Regions from separate parts of the Homo sapiens genome. Here region 2 is linked to region 1. A link means that fine-mapping ties the variant in region 1 to the expression of a gene that starts in the linked region. Tissue or cell type: whole blood. Region 1 holds a variant in brackets; the other region holds the start of a gene. All regions are shown on one strand. Distances are from middle to middle.

The links. PIP is the estimated chance that this variant, and not a neighbour inherited with it, causes the effect.
Region 2: GAB3 starts here. The variant in region 1 is fine-mapped to the expression of GAB3 in whole blood (TOPMed, PIP above 0.99).

What each region holds. Positions count from the first base shown.
Region 1 is chrX:154,505,984-154,514,087 of GRCh38, forward strand. It overlaps FAM3A (FAM3 metabolism regulating signaling molecule A), which reads right to left. Exons shown (of 9, transcript NM_021806.4): 2 at 6,840-6,953; 3 at 5,865-5,888; 4 at 2,491-2,614; 5 at 2,306-2,364; 6 at 1,828-1,878; 7 at 1,423-1,507; 8 at 1,220-1,346; 9 at 188-923. The coding sequence ends at 828. Among named protein-coding and RNA genes, the nearest start is that of FAM3A, 6.2 kb to the right of the region's middle. The variant T/G (reference allele first, on the strand shown) is at 4,742.
Region 2 is chrX:154,746,849-154,754,952 of GRCh38, forward strand. It overlaps GAB3 (GRB2 associated binding protein 3), which reads right to left and starts at 4,229. Exons shown (of 10, transcript NM_001081573.3): 1 at 4,106-4,229. The coding sequence starts at 4,177. RefSeq lists silencers at 3,875-3,934, 4,105-4,184.

The sequences.
Region 1 (8,104 bases):
CTGTTGACTGCTTGAGTCACATCTCAGTCGCAGCGGGGCCTGTTGGTGGCAGGAGCCCTGGAGACAAAAGGCTGTCTGCTCGGGCTGTGGGAGCAGGTTGGTTAAGACTCTGGAATCTGTCCTCCCGCACCCCAGAGGACACCGCCACCTCTGACTCCGCACTGACAACAGCATCTGAAGGCATTTCTTCTGTGGGGCCATCACTTTATTAAGGGGTCATCTAGAAGGTGGGCCCCCTGACAAACCGCGGGACTGTGATCGGGCTCCAGCTACTTCACCACCCCGGGCCAGCCTGCTCCAGGGGTCCCTTCCTGCTGAGAGCAGGCGAGAGGCAGTCAGGCTCATGAAGCAGCCACCGGGTTTGGCTCACTGGAAGGAATCACACTGGAAACATGTTTAGCCCGCAGTGCAGAGTGGCTCCAGAAGGGAGAGGTTCTGGAAGACGCCCCAACCTGCCGGGCTGCTCCCAGAGATGCACAGTGAGGGGCAGGCACCCAGGGCCGTTCCAGGACTCAAGATGGGGATGGAGATGGCGTGAGGAATGGAGGACAGGGCTAGATGGGCTGACCGGGGGGAACAGTGTTACGAAAAGGAGGCGGGTACCCTGGGCTCCCGTGACAAAGTGCGGCAGGGCTACCCCCTGCAGCCCCCATAGCCCCCACCACCTTGAGACCACGTTCTGGTCACTGCCTCGGAGCCCCGATGTGTTGGGGCCAGGGAGCGCTCCTGCCCGGGTGTGGGGTGTGAGCCTCAGCCTCTGTCCGCCCGGCAGCGCGCGTGCCTCCCTTGGTCTGGCCTCCCTCGGCCCGGTCCTGGCACTGGCCGTGCTAGCTGGCCGTGCTTCTCCGCGGGATACAGCCTTCCATCTCCAGCGCCTCGGGCCAGCCTTCGTACTTGTTGCTGTGCTTACTGTTCTTCACGTGCTGTGGGGAGGGGAGCAGAAAGTCATGACTTTGGCCCTCAGGGACAGGGGACAGGAGTGGACCAGGACCCAGGCTGTCAGTCAACTGTGCTGTGTTGGCCAACGGTGTACTCTCAGGGCACTTGGCCCCTCCACCCATCCCAGGGAAACATGGCATCAGCTGCACTGGCCCACCCCTCATAGCTGGACTGGGGACGGTCCCCTGCTGGGGCGTGAGCAGCTGGGGAGGCTCGTCGCATGCAGGCAGAAGGGGCGACAGGCTGCCCCGGTGGGGGTGATGCCAGGCACCCCCCATACCTGCTCAAAGGGGCTCTTGTTCTGCACACCCTTGGCCCCGACAAACACCCAGCTGTCCCGGAAGGCCAGCTCCTTGGCGTTCCTGCTGCCCAGCTCACTGAAGAGCTTTCTGGTCTCTTCATTCATCCTGCAGCATGGGAGGAAGGGGTGTCAGCTGTTGCTGCAGAAGGGCAAGGCTGAGGCTGGCCTCCCCAAGCACCTACTTGGTGGCTGGGTCGTCGTAGGATGCCACGAACACCAGGGTGCCTTCGTGCAGTGGCCGAATAAACTTCAACAGGTCGTTGACATCTGGGGGGGCAGGTGCCACGGAACAGGGGTCATCAGGCACCACTGAGCACCCTCCCACAAGCCCGTTCTCCAAACAAGGAAACAGAAGTAGGGATTGGGCCTGGGACATGCCCCGCCAAGGGACAGGCTGGTGTAGGAAGCTGAGGCATCCCCGTGACCTCCCACAGCCTCCAGACCAAGCTGGCGATGCCCCTGTCCTTTCTGAACCCACGGAGGTGACTGAGAAGCTCCAAGTACAGACAGAGAGAGCAGTGTCTCAGGGGAAGCTGCCCAGGTCATTTTGCTGCAGTCAAAATGCAAGACGCTGCGCTGCAACTCACCTCCGGCCCACATGTCAAAGGCCCGGGCCTCGATGAGCTCGCCGCTGACCCCTGTGTCAGGAGGGAGGGGCCCTGCTGGGTAAGCCAGGCCAGCCTCAGGGCACGGCAGGCGGGTAGCACCGGGGGTGGGGGGCAGCCCTTCTGGAAGCTTTCAAACAGTCCCCCAATATTCATCCATTTGTTCAGGCAGCTGCATCCCACCCCAAGCCGTGGTGCCTCTGTCTGGCATTTGAGGCCCTCCGGGGGCTCTCCATGAAGCACCCTCAACCTCCCAGAACCTTCCCTAGTTCTTTATTGCCATCATGCTTTTTTGTTCATTGGGTCACTCCTCTGTGGAGCCTTGCGCTTGCACAGACTCCTTCCCAGGCCTCCCTGGGAGATCTTGAATGGGAGGGGAAGGGAGGGCAAACACCCAGAGGCCTCCTGGGGAGGGAGCAGGGAAGGAGGGCGGCAGGCCACGCTCAGCCAGGGGCCTCACCGTTCACCAGGGCGATGTTCAGCCCGCGGCCCACGTTGTCCTTGACGCTGCTCATCAGCCTAGTTGGGGGGGGGTGGGGGGGACGGGGAGATCCCACATGGGCACGTCTGCTCCACTCTCCCTTGCAGACCCGGCCCTGGATCCCCCACTCCCTCCCTGATCCCCAGTCACCCCAGGGAGCTCACATCTTGTCCTCGAGGCAGATCTTGGGCCCAATGACGTTGGCGGCCCCGCTGACCACGCGGAAGGCCAGGTGCTCCTCAGGACACGGCTGGGGCAGGCCACACTTGTACTTCCTGGCCCGTGGCGCTGGGCAGGGATAGCAGGTGTTATCCATGGGCCTGGCCCTGAGGTCACCTGAGATCTGAAGGGGAGGTCAGGACCAGCACACATGGTAGAACAAGTGACCGCAGAGCAGGACACAAGTAGGGGGATGTGGCTCAGGCCGAGGCTGGGGACACTTCCATACTCTGTGTCCTACTGGTGAGGCCACAGGGACCCAAGACAGAAGGATTTTCTGTTACTGGTGGGAGAAAAGAAAGGATGCTGAGGGCTGGCCTGGGCCACTGCACAGCCAGGAACAAAGCAGGGGTGAAGTAAGTCAGGCTGGGGGTCTAGCTGCATGGATGAGGCCAACCTGAGCAAAGGCAGTGTGGCAGGGGGTAGTGTGGCAGGGGGTGCAGCCTGTCTCCCGATTTTGATGGGGGTTGGTTGGGAGGACTGGAGCAGGATGGCTTCTATTATGGGTTGAATTCTGTCCCCTCAAGGTATGCTGAAGTTCTAATCTGTGGTACTTCAGAATGTGATGTTTGCAAATAGGGCCTTTGCAGTTCAGATGGGGTCATACTGGAGTAGGTTGGGTCCTTAATGCAACATGACTGATGTCCTTATAAGAACAGAAGTGACAAAGACACACAGAGGGAAGACAGCCATGGTACAGTGGAGGAAGAGACAGGAGTGACACAGCCAGAGGCCAAGGTATGCCTGGGGCCACTGGAACCTGGGGAGGTCAGGAAGGACCCTCCTGTAGAACTTTCAGGGTGAGTAACGCCCTGCTGACACTTTGATTTCAGACTTCTGGCTTTCAGAATGGGGAGAGAATCCATTTCTGTTGTTTAAGCCACCCAGTTGAAATGGCAGTTCCAGGAAATGGATACAGGTTTTGGCACCAGGAAGTGTGGTGCTTAGGTAACAAATACCTAAAAATGTGGAAATGGCTTTGGAACTGGGTAGTCAGTAGAGGCTTGTCTTAGTCCATTTGCTGCTGCCATAACAGAATACCACAGACTGGGTAATTTATAAAGACAACAGATTCATTTGGCTCATGGTTCTGGAGGCTGGGAAGTCCAAAAGCATGGCGCCGGCATCTGGTGAGGGTCATCCCGTGGCAGAAAGGTGGAAGGTGGAAGCAAGCATATGAGACGCAGGAAAAAAGGGGGCTGAACTTCAAGGTAACTAACTCACCCATAATAGTGGCATTCATCCATTCATGAGGGCAGAGCCCTCATGACGTAACTACCTCAAAAAGGCCCTCCTCTCAATACCAATACATTGACAAATTTCAACATGAGTTTTAGAGATGACATTTAAACCATATCAAGGCTATAGAAGTTTGAGGTACATGTTAGAAAAGGTCTGGATTGCCTTTAAGAGACTGTTGGTAGGAGTATGGATGTTAAAGGTAATTCTGGTGAGAGGAGGGGAGAGCAATAGAGACAGCCTCTGTGGTCTTAGAGAATACAAATATCATCAAGAACAGAACGTTGCTAGAAACATGAATGTTAAAGGTGCTTTTGGGTTGGGTGTGGTGATTCACGCATGTGATCCCAGCACCTTGGGAGGCCAAGGCAGGAGCATCACTTGAGGCCAGGTGATCAAGACCAGCCTGGGCAACATAGTGAGACCCCGTCTCTACAAAAAATACAAAATAAGCTGGGTGTGGTGGTACATGCCTGTAATCCCAGCTACTCAGGAGGCTGAGGCAGGAGAATCACTTGAGCTATGATTGCGCCACTGCCCTCCAGCCTGGGTGAGAGAGCAAGACCCTGTCTCAATACATTCAAAAAATAAATAATAAAAAATAAAACATTAGCTGGGTGTGGTGGCACATGCCTGTAGTCGCAGCTACTTGGGAGACTGAGGTGAGAGGATCGCTTGAGCCCAGGAGTTTGAGCTTACAGTGCACGGGGATGATACCACTGAACTCCAGCCTGAGCAACAGAGTAAGACCTCTGTCTCTACCAAAAAAAAAAAAAAAAAAAAAAGGTGCTTTTGGTTAAGCCTCAGAGGAAAATGAGGGACATGTTATTGAGTTATTGGGCGCTGGAGGAAAGCTGATCCTTGTTATAAAGGAACTTGGCCCAGGTGTGGTGGCTCACGCCTATAATCCCAGCACTTTGCGGGGCCAAGGCGGGAGGATCACTTGAGGTCAGGAAT[T/G]CGAGACCAGCCTGACCAACACGGTGAAACCCCATCTCTACTAAATATGAAAATTAGTTGGGTATGGTGGCAGGTGCCTGTAATCCCAGCTAATCAGGAGGCTGAGGTGGGAGAATCGCTTGAACCCGGGAGGCGGAGGTTGCAGTGAGCCAAGATGGCTCCACTGCACTCCAGCCTGGGTGACAGAGCAAGACTCCGTCTCAAAAAAAAAAAAAAACTTGGTTGAATTGTGTTCTAGTGTTTTGTCGAAAGGAGAATGTGTAAGTGCTGGGTGCTGAACTTGGATATTCAGCTGAGGAGATTTCCAAGCAGTGTTGAGAGCGTAGCCTGACTTCTCCTTGCTGCTTATAGTAAAATGTGAGAGACATAAGGAAGAAACTGTTGAGCACAAAGGAGCCAGAAAGCGAAGATGTGGAAAATTCTTGGCCTAATCATATTACAAAAACTGCAAAAGTGTCCCCTGGACAGAACAGCAAGGCTGTTCAAGCGTTTGCCCCAGAGCTGAGGTATGTGACTCGTGGGTCCACTCAACCCTTTCAGCAGAAATCTACAATGAAGATGGGGTTATCTAGGAAGCGTCTGTGGGAAAACTCTCTGATTTTATAGCTTGGGCCTCTATAACTTGCAAAAGAGACCAACAAGGCTCTTGAGAATCTGACACCAGCAGAAACACTGCCGGCCTGGAGTGAAGGGGGCAGAGATGAGATAAAGGGAAGGAAGGGTGGCCCCGAAGGTGGGGCTGTCTCGTTTCAGAGCATGGGTCATTCCAGCAGGCCCAGAAGAAAGAATCTCAGGCCACAGAGGATTCCCCTCAGGCCTTGAAACCAAATGAATTTTGCCCTGCTGGGCTTTGGACTTGCTTGGGACGGGTGACCTCTTTTTTCCTTCCAAGTTGCCCTTTTGCAGTGGGAGTATCTATCCTAGGCCTGCCCCACCGTCATATTCTGGCAGGAAGTAACTTGGCAGGAAGTAACTTGTTTTGTAGGTTGACAGTGGCAAGCAGCCCCCGTGGACCACCACAGCTGGTTTGGGGAGGAATAAATGGAAAACCGAAGCCCTACGGGACCGGGGGCAGGCAGGGATGTCACAAAGGGGAGGAGCAGGGAGGTGACAGGGGCCTTACCTGCAGTCACCGAGCTCTCTGGACCTGTGGATACAGAGTGGTTTCTGTTAGTGTGGAGCCTCCCGGGGCCTGCGGCAGGGCAGCCTGGCCCTCCTTACACCGCGAAGTGTAGACACAGGCAGTCAGGCTCAGGGGCCGGGGGCTAAGCCAGGCCGACCTTGGCATGCTTCCTGCTCAAGTGTAAGTCATGTTCAGATGAAAAACTCCCTACTCTAGGAACAGGGGGAAATGGAATTAGAAAAACTACTTAGATGACCTGGCCGGGCATAGTGGCTCATGCCTGTAGCACTTTGGGAGGCTGAGGCGGGTAGATTGCTTGAGCCCAGGAGTTTGAGACCAGCCTGGGCAACATGGTGAAACCCCATCTCTACTAAAAATACAATAATAATAATAATAATAATAATAATAATAATAATAATAAGAAGAAGAAGAAGAAGAAGAAGAAGCCGGGTTTGGTGGTGCGCACCTGTAGTCTCAGCTACTCGGGAGGCTGGGGCACTAGAATCGCTTGAACCCAGGAGGTAGAGGTTGCAGTGAACCGAGATTGCACCACTGCACTCCAGCCTGGGAGACAAAGTGAGACACTGTCTCAAACAAACAAACAAAAAAGTACTCAGGTGACCTATTACCAGTCAACAAGGTGGAGAGTCCCCTCTCCATCTCAGAGCCTGCAGGGAGCAACCGGGGCATCACTCCCCATGTTCAGTGGAAGCTCCCTACCCCTTACTCTGGCCCTACTGACTCCAGTTGGGCATATAATTCTAGTGATCAGGTATTGGCTTTCCTAGATGAAGCAACTGGGTGTTGGGGGAGGCTGCGCCTGATGCCAGGAGACAGACTGGGGACAGCCAAAGGTAGCCTGCCAGGGAGGAGATAGAAAACCCAAGTCAACTCCCAACCCAGAGCCTCAACCACAGGCCCAGGTGGCCACCTTGGTGGCCTCCAGAGAAGGATAAGGCGGGGTCCCACACTCACTGGTGAAGAGTTGCTGGATGCGAGGAAAGCCACTGCCAGGCCCACCCAGGAGGATGCTGACCACGATCCATGTGACACCCACACTGACGACTAGGACCACAATGCGGAGAGGGCCTGGAGGCAGGATAGACACAGGGTGGGGTCACCTCAGATACCAGCGAACCCCAGAATGACCCCATAGCCTTGCATGACTGGATCTCCCCTGCCACTTGGGAAGAAGTGGCTGGAGGACAAGGAGGTGGAGACCTGTTGCCTTCTACCAGGGCTGAAAGGGAGACTTGAGCTCCCTGGCAGGTGGAAGGAGGAAATTGAGTTCAAATCCCAAGGCTGCTGGGTTTGGTTTTCCCTGGCGGGTCTGGGAGGGGGCCTTCCAGAACTCTCTGCTCGAGAAGGGCTCCAGCCCTCTTTCCAAGAACCCCCTCAACTTCCTGCCTCTGAAACCACCAATATATTTGGGCATCCACCTGCCCCTGCTTTCCTCCTGTTCTGAGGGAGAAGGGTCCCTACTCCCTTTTAAGACCAGTCCCGGCCGGGCGCAGTGGCTCACGCCTGTAATCCCAGAACTTTAGGAGGCCGAGGCGGGTAGATCATGAGGTCAGGTGTTCGAGACCAGCCTGACAAAGATGGTGAAACCCTGCCTCTACAGAAAATACAAAAATTAGCCGGGCATGGTGGCGCGCACCTGTAATCCCAGCTACTCAGGAGGCTGAAGCAGGAGAATCAGTTGAACCTGGGTGGCGGAGGTTGCAGTTAGCTGAGACCATGCCACTGCACTCCAGCCTGGCGACAGAGTGAGACTCTGCCTCAAAACAAAAACAAAAACAAAACAAAACAAAACCAAAACAACAACAGTCCCGTCATCTGCTGGGACCTGGATTGCAAGCTCCCCAGCCTTCTCTGATTTCTTGTAATAGTGATCACTCTCTCTAGTTCGCTCTTTCTCCTGTATTTTCAACATCTCCAATGTTAAGGAAGCAAAGAAAACACTCTTCTTCAAAACCACATCCCCATCCTCTTTCCCCTAACCTTTCTTTTCCCTGTCAACCCCCTCAAAAGTCATCTATACTCATTCCATCATCTCACCTCCTACTCCCTCCCACCCTACTCCAGTCTGGCCTGGCTTCCACCACCTCACCAAATCAGCTTGTTGCCAAGGCCACTGATGACCTTTGTGGTGTCACCACCCCTGGTGACCTGTCAGCCTTGATCTTCCTTGACCTCTCAGTGGGCTGCCCATGTCCACCTGACAGAAGCACTAACTTCTC
Region 2 (8,104 bases), 240 kb after region 1:
CAACTCTGAGAAAGAAAAAGTTTGAGGGCTAAAATAACCTGATTTCAAGAATTATTGTAAAGCTACAGTCATTAGTCATTAAACAGCATGTTGTTGGCATAAAACAAATAGATCAATGGAACAGACTAGAGAATCCAGAAATAGATCTACATGGATATGGTAAATGGATTTTTTTTTAGATAGTTTTGCTCTTGTCGCCCAGGCTGGAGTGCAATGGTGTGATCTCAGCTCACTGCAACCTCCACCTCTGGGGTTCAAGCAATTCTCCTGTCTCAGCCTCCCAAGTAGCTGGGATTACAGGTGCCCACCACCATGCCTGGCTAATTTTTTTTGTGTTTTTAGTAGAGACAGAGTTTCACCATGTTGGCCAGGCTGGTCTTGAACTCCTGACCTCAGGAGATCCTCCAGCCTCAGCCTCCCAAAGTGCTGGGATTATAGGCGTGAGCCACTGTGCCCTTCAGGTAAATTGGTTTTTGATGATGTTTCAAAAGTAAATCAATGGAATAAAGGCAGTCTACTCAATAAATAGTACTGGAACAAATGAAATCGGTATGCAAGAAAAGAAACCATGATACAAACCTCACAGCTTTTATAAAATTTACTCAAAATGGATCATAGATCTAAATATAAAATATCTAAATATAAAATATAAAATTATAAAACTTTCAGAGGCCAGGTACATTGGCTCACGCCTGTAATCCCAGCACTTTAGAAGGCCAAGGTGGAAGGATCACTTGAGGCCAAGAGTTGGAGACCAGCCTGCGGGCAACATGGAGAAATCCTGTCCTCTCTACAAAAAATACAATTAGCAGTGCATGGTGGGGAGCAGCTATAGTGCCAGCTACTCAGGAGACTGAGGTGGGAGGATCACTTGAGCCCAAGAGGTCAAGGCTGGGTGACAAAGGATCTTAGGCTAGATGAAGAGTTGTTAGATTTAACATTAAATCCATGATTCATAAAAGAAAAATTGTATTGGGGATTTCATTAAAATTTTTAAATTTTAGTTCTTCAAAAGAGGATGAAAAGACAAAAACTATGGGCTGCTAGAAAATATTTGCAAATTAAATATGCAACAAAGAACCTATATCCAGAGAACCTATATCCAGGGACAAAAACAGTGCCTGGCTCTTGGCATTGTTTTGAAAACTAAATGAGTTAATACAAGTTCTTAGTGTAGTGCCTGGCACATATAAACATTCAATAAAAGTGAACTATTATAGCTTTATTATCACTGTTATTATAGGACTCTTTAAAATGGATAAAAATAGATGCAAGCCAAATGTTCACCAATAGAGAAATTGTTATATTATATGTATTACAAGGAATATTTGACAATGCTTTAACGAATGAAGTAAATCTATATGTACTAACCTGGAAAGATGTCCAGGATGTTTGTGAACAAAGCAAATTGCAGGACCGTTAGTAGAATATGATCCCAGTTGTGCAAAAAGAAAATTATATATTTTCTGAAAAATTTTGTAGAATGGTACTCACTGAACGGCTCACAGTTGTTATCCCTGGGTTGGGGAGTGGAATAAGGAGGAGAGCAAAGGGAAGGTAGCGGGGTAGGGGAAATTTAAAGGGGGTCTTCACTTTTCATTCTATTTATTAACATAAGAATATATTTCTTGTGAAACAAAAAATACAGATGAAAATAACTATCTTTTAAAAGACCAGTGATAAAAAATAACTTTCTGATTGTCTTCACTGATGGATTCAAGTGGATGAAGTACAAGCCTACTTTGGACTGAAAGGTTTACCTAAAAACTGCCTGAGCTTCCATTTGTAACAGCAAACATTGATGGAGTGCTGCTTGCTGGCCTGGCAGCACGAATAACTGAGTTATTGTCCTGGTTGTGCCAATAACTAGTTTTGCTATGTTACTATTATAAATGTTAAACTATAAACTGGAATCAAGTCTTTTTTTTCTGTCTTCCCAGCCTGTAACACAGGGCCTAGTTCGGAGTTAGCGCTCCGTTAACGGGAGGGAGTGACAGGAATTGAATTTAAGCAGCTGTAACAGCCCTATCCAGGCCCCGTCGAAGTGACACATGATCACCATCTAGTGGTGAAAAAGATTCCTGCAGAATTTAGCTATGAGAGGAAAAAGAATTCTTTCTGTGGTGTGTTCCAGGGACAGATGCCTGTCAGCGAAAAAAGCATTGACTAGATATGATCTTTCTTAGAGACAGTTCCCAAACATCAAGGTTTATGTCTTGGAGTGTTGGTAAGATGACACCTAGGTACTCTTGTGTCTTAAGTCTAGTCACTGCCCCATCATCACACGCCCCACATATCTCTAAGCTGCGCAGTGTCCACTCTTGCCACATCCCCTAAAGGAATGAACCGCGTGTGATAATAGGCACACACACTCATGCCTTCCCAAAGTTGATGAAATACTAATAAACTTCCCTAAGCCAGTCTGCTTAAGATACAAAAAAAGACTGGGAAATAAAATATTCTATAATCTTTGCCCTCCAGGGGCATCTTTCTGTATCATCTACTGAAATTGTATAGTGAACCTTTAAAATGTCTGTCATTCCAAAGGACAACAAGGAAACCCATCCTGAGTCAACACTGCAAGCACTACTGTGTGACAAAAGCCTCACCTGCTCATGCAGGTGATGGGAGCAGGTTTTCTTCTCTTGCCTCCTTTGAGTAGCTTCACAGTTAAGGAAGCAGCTGGATAATGCAGAGGCCAAGAGATATTGGACCCTGTGCTTATGGACTCCTGGACTCAAAAGCAAATGATGTAGGGACACACTGGCACTTAGAGAAATCTCAGTATTTATGCACTCCTGATATTCACGTGCTAAATAGAACAACCTTCCTCTAAAGTTCTGTTCTGCAGAACAAACAACAAAAATCTTTTCAAAGACCCCTAAGAGAGAAACACACACTGTCTAGCCCGATGTGAATGGGGAAAGAGGGCTTGAGCAACTCTATGTTCAGGAAAATCTCCTGCCACACATTCTGGAAGTATTCATACATTATTAAAGTCTTTTTATAATCCCACCTCTTGAACTTCCACACAATATGTGCCTCATCTATGTGGGAACAAAAACAGTTGTGAAATTTGGCCAGAAGAGGACAGCAGTTTGAGAGCACTGTATAGACAAGAGCACAAGGCTGAACCACATTTGGGGTGGGCTGCTTTGGATGAGCGCAGACATGCGCGAGTTTGTTCCTACCACCGTGCAGTGAAGTTGCAGAGAAATTAGGAATTAAGAACAAGATGAATCCATCCAGCTACTCCCAGCCTAAAAAAAGCAAGAAGTCCTAATAGCTATTTATATGCAACTCCCTGGGGACTGAAGTGGTTCTTCCTAATGGCTGAAAAACACTGAGTAGCAATCAGGTCTTTAAGCAGAATGTTTTTAAGACCTTATCGTGAGGACGCTGATGGAGATAATGAACGTTTGAGGTGTCGATAGTACATCTTAAAACGGTAATGGAATAGGTAGGAAGATTCGCTCTTCCAAGTATTCCTAATTTCATATTAGTAAAAGTCAGTTGTCCAGCTGGCACTATAAAAGCGCGGTGTCAGCATTAAGAAGAAGCTGAAAGGAGTTACACGATGAGAAACGAGTTACACTGTGTAGGGTTCCAGACAGCAGTGTCCGATGACAGCTACAAGAGCAGCACTCCTTACTCCTTACGGTCCAGGGGGAATGCAGGCAATTCCCCTCTGGCTGTCAGTCTCCCTATCCCCTGCCGCGTCTCCTTCGCGGGGCGATGGGTCTCAGAGCCACCCCCAGCCAAAGAAAGGGGCACGCTTTCGAGATGTCTCCCTGGCCGCTCCTGTACGGAGAGTGGCGCCTGAGGTTTCAGCCCCAACCCGCCTCCCTCCGCTAGAGTCAGCGGCGGTCTGGAGTCCCTGAGCCCCGCGGGCAGGCGCCACCTGGTCTCCGGCCCGCTGCCTAGCACAGCGGCGAAGCTGGCTCGACGTGCGATTTCGGTTTCCGTCCGTCGGCCTCGCCCGCAGTCCCGGGCGCTGGGAGCGGCTGCGCCTGGCGCGCCCGGAGCCCAGCGGCTCCCCGCGGCCGCCCCGCGGGCGGGTGCCCCGGGACGCGAAGGCCGGGCGGGTGGCGGCGCCCCTACTCACGTAGCGCTGTAGCTTCCTCTCGGGGGGCGACTTAACGAGCCAGCCGGTGCACACTGCGTCGCCCGCACTCATCGTGGCCGCCGCCGCCGCTTCCTCCAGCTGGGCCAGCCGCCCGCGGCAGAAGGAAGTCGGGCCAAGGATGCCGGCGGGGCGGGCCCAGCGCCCGCCCGCCCAGCGCCGCCCCGAGCGGCCGCTGCGACCCCCGCCTCCGGCCGCCGCGGCCCCCGGGGAGGGAACCGACGCCGCCCGCAACCCAAGACGGCGGGAAAAGCAAGCAGCGAAGCCTGGGAAGCCCCTTCGAGCAACTGCAGCTCCGCCAGCGGCTGTGCCCGGGGGGGGGGTGTGGGGGGGGGAGCCTACGCAGCAGGGCGCCTGCCACTCTCACCCAGGGTCACGAGAAAGCGCTCGGAAGGAGCCCTGCGACCTAATGGGAGCACAGCCTGGAACCTGTTGCCCTCATGCCCCATCCCCAATCCGCCACGCCAAACGGGCTGGTCCCTGGGTCTCAGGGACCCTGGAGCTGAAACCCAAGTACCACCTGCATCTGCCATGTGCATAGTTCACGGAGAAACAAAAGCAAGACTCCTCTTGGACTTCCCTATTCCACTTGATTGCTTGCACAGTAGTGTGTTTTCTATGTCCCTCCCCCAAAGATCGTTGTATTCAGTGATAAGCTTTGCCGGCTAAACGGTCTAAATGTCTTAATGAACCCAAATGACCCAAACTCAAAAGGTAGTGCTGTTTGCAATCTCTTTGACTCGAAGGTTTTAAAAGATGGATCTAAAGTCGATTGTGCCAACTAGTGTGCTGACCACGCTAAGTAAAAATAACAATCATGAGCACCTAACACTTGTGACCTTCCTTACTGCCAAGCTAACACCATGCCAGCGATTGTGCTAAGCACTTTCCAGGCGTTATCTCATTGAATCCACACAACACCCTGTCAAAGGGCTCTTATTATTATCTCAATTTTGCAGGTTACTAAAATGAAAAACAGGATGACAGTGTCACTTGTCGAGAGCCACACGAGAAAATCATCCATAGGCAGCCAGAGCTGTGTCAAGAGCCCATCCACTTAAGCACCACCCTCTGCTTTTTGTGGGTATCATCTATGTGACGTTTGCTAGCATCTTCAACAGAATGACCAACCTCCCATCCTATCAGGCCAGATGCTTCAGGGTGATGAGCTAACATGGTAACACCAGTGGAGTCCATCAGCATGCGCACACTGGCTTATAATGATTTTCTTGTGTGAGATAATGTCAGTGTGAATAATGGGTTCAGTAAGTCAATGGGCAGGAGTGCCAGCAGAAATGTGAATTTTAAAAAAGCGAATCCATGTACAAAATTAGTACCTGTTCAAGTGAGAAAAAATTGCTGCCCCTTCCAGATGGCAGTCCAGGTGGCTGTCTGGTCCCCCCAGGGAATGCTGTTATTAAGGGTTCATTGTTTGTCTCTGCCTGTGGGCAGCTTGAGCACTTAGCAGTGGCTGTGGCCATATCAACTGTTGCCAGTCCCTGAGAGCCCCACTATGCATTGCTAATTCTCTAAGTCTTGCTTACACCTCTGTTAAAAAAAAAATCCCTTAATTATACTTTCCTCATTTCAACCCCTTGAGTCTACTGTTTGCTTCCTTTTGAAACCTTGACCGATAGACCTGGTCATGAGGAACTCCCTACGACATTCTGGGTGTAAGTCCAGGGAATGGTGATCATGCAGCAGCAGGGGCCACAAAGATGTGAGCCACCTGCTCTAGCAACTTTCCTGTACCTTCCAGACCTGCTTGAGTCTGGTCTCAAATATTCCACTTCCAAAAGAGGATGAAATAGCACCAAATTTATCAGTGGCAGCTGAAGTTCCATGGTTCTTTGGTGCCCCATGGTCAAGCATTCAGACTTTGCCACAGCCCAGGAGCAAGCTGGAAGCTGTTGGTCAAAAGGAAAATACTTCTTTTGTGGTAGAGGGCATGGTTTACTTCAAAACTCTAGGGCTTTGCTGTGTGTTTCTCCTACTGGGACTTGCCAGAGGCTCCGTGTAGCCTCCCAGTGTGTCAAAGGTCCTGTACCTGTTGAATCTACATGGTCATAAGGGTCAAGTGGCCTGGACCTGTCACAGAGCCTTTTCTTGCCCTGGATCTCTCCCCGAAAACATGCAACCCTACAGATGACTTGCTGAGTGCATTGGTGCGGCACAATTAAATGTAGCATATGTTGCCTACAAAATTCAAACATCCACACCAAATGCCGTGCCTCTTTCTGAGTGGTAGGTGGTAAGCGGTACAACAACATGTTGAATACCCAACGTGGTCCAGACCATCTAAAAACTTTGCTGAGGTTCAGGCTCTTGAGTTTTCATGGGGCTTATCTCCTGCCCTGTGGTGTACTTGTATCTTAATAAAGCATCTAGAGTATTCGCTACCTCTAGATCATCAGGTCCAGTACATATGTCATCAGTGTAATAAACCAGCACAACATTCACAACAATCAAGCTCCATTCAACGTGGATTATGACAGTGAGCCAGAGAATAGATATAGTCCTAAGGTTGTACTTCTGTTCCCGCTAGATGAAAGTAAGCTGCTTCTAGTGTTCTCTGCTGAATGGGAAAAAATAACATTTGGCAAAGGAATAGCTGTATCCCAGGTGCCAGGGGGCTATGTTGATTTGCTGTAGGAAAACAGCATCATCTGGAATAGCAGCTTCAGTTCGAATCACAGCCTGATTAATTCTACAATTACCCACTACTAATCTCCAGACTAGCCAGATGGGTTAAATAAAGATGTGATATGAGTAACTATTCCCGTATCTTTTAGGGTACCCTGTTCTCACTGCCAGAGAAATCGAAATTGTTCCTTTCATGGAAACCCATCTTAGCTTCTCTGCACTCTAGCCTGGGGAGAGGAGAGAATTTGAATAGCAAGTGATTTTTGGCACCTGCATTCCCTTTGTGGCTTCCCCATTTATTTTTTGTTTAAAATACACTTTGTTTCACAGTTCATTAACTTCTGTAAATCTTATAACTACAAACTTGTGAAAATAAATGCCTACTATTACAGAAGAGTTTCTATCTCAATTTCATCATGATGAGTCAAAGTGACTATGCATCTAACTTATTTGCTATGAAAAGAAAATTTGAAAAGAAAACTCTGGATCATAGACAGGCAGGGGAAACAGCTTCAAATGTGTGTGAGAGTCAGTAATGAGGAAAAGGACTGCACCTTCCTATATCTCCCACCTCCCACCCACCTCTTGATTTAATAAATCTAAGAAGTATGTGAATTAAAGGCCTGGAGTGCCATGGCACAAGTTCAGATAGGGGAACACTCTTTTTCCTCTATAGGCATCCATAAACGACTTCTCTATGAGTTAAAATCATCTAATTTTCATGTGGAATATGAAATTTGACTTTATTATTATCAGTGATAGTCTTTCATCATATCCATTATTGTTGTATTTAAAATTGCCCAAAATTGGTCAGGTATGGTGATTCACACCTGTAATCCCAGCCCTGTGGGAGGATGAGGCAGGAGGATCCCTTGAGCTCAGGAGTTTGAGACCAGCCTGAGCAACATAGGAAGACCTCATCTCTAAATAAATAAGAGATTGCACAAAATTGTTGTCATAAGTCCAAATCAAACACTTCTCAATTCATTCTATAAAGCCAGTATTACTCTGATACTTCCAAAACCAGAAAAAGTTAAAAAAAGAAGGCTACATGCCAATATGCCTCATGAATATAGACACAAAAATCCTTAGAAAAATACTAGCAAATAGAATCCACAAATACATAAAAATAATTATACACCATGCATCTCAGAGATGCAAGGCTTGTTCAATATTTGAAAACCAATTAATGCAATACAGTACATTAACAGACAAAAGAAGAAAAATCACATGATTTATCAGTTGATGCAGAACGAGCATTTGACAGAACTCATGACAAAAACTCTCAGAAAACTCTCAGAAAATGGGGGAATTTCCTCAATTTATTAAAGAACATCT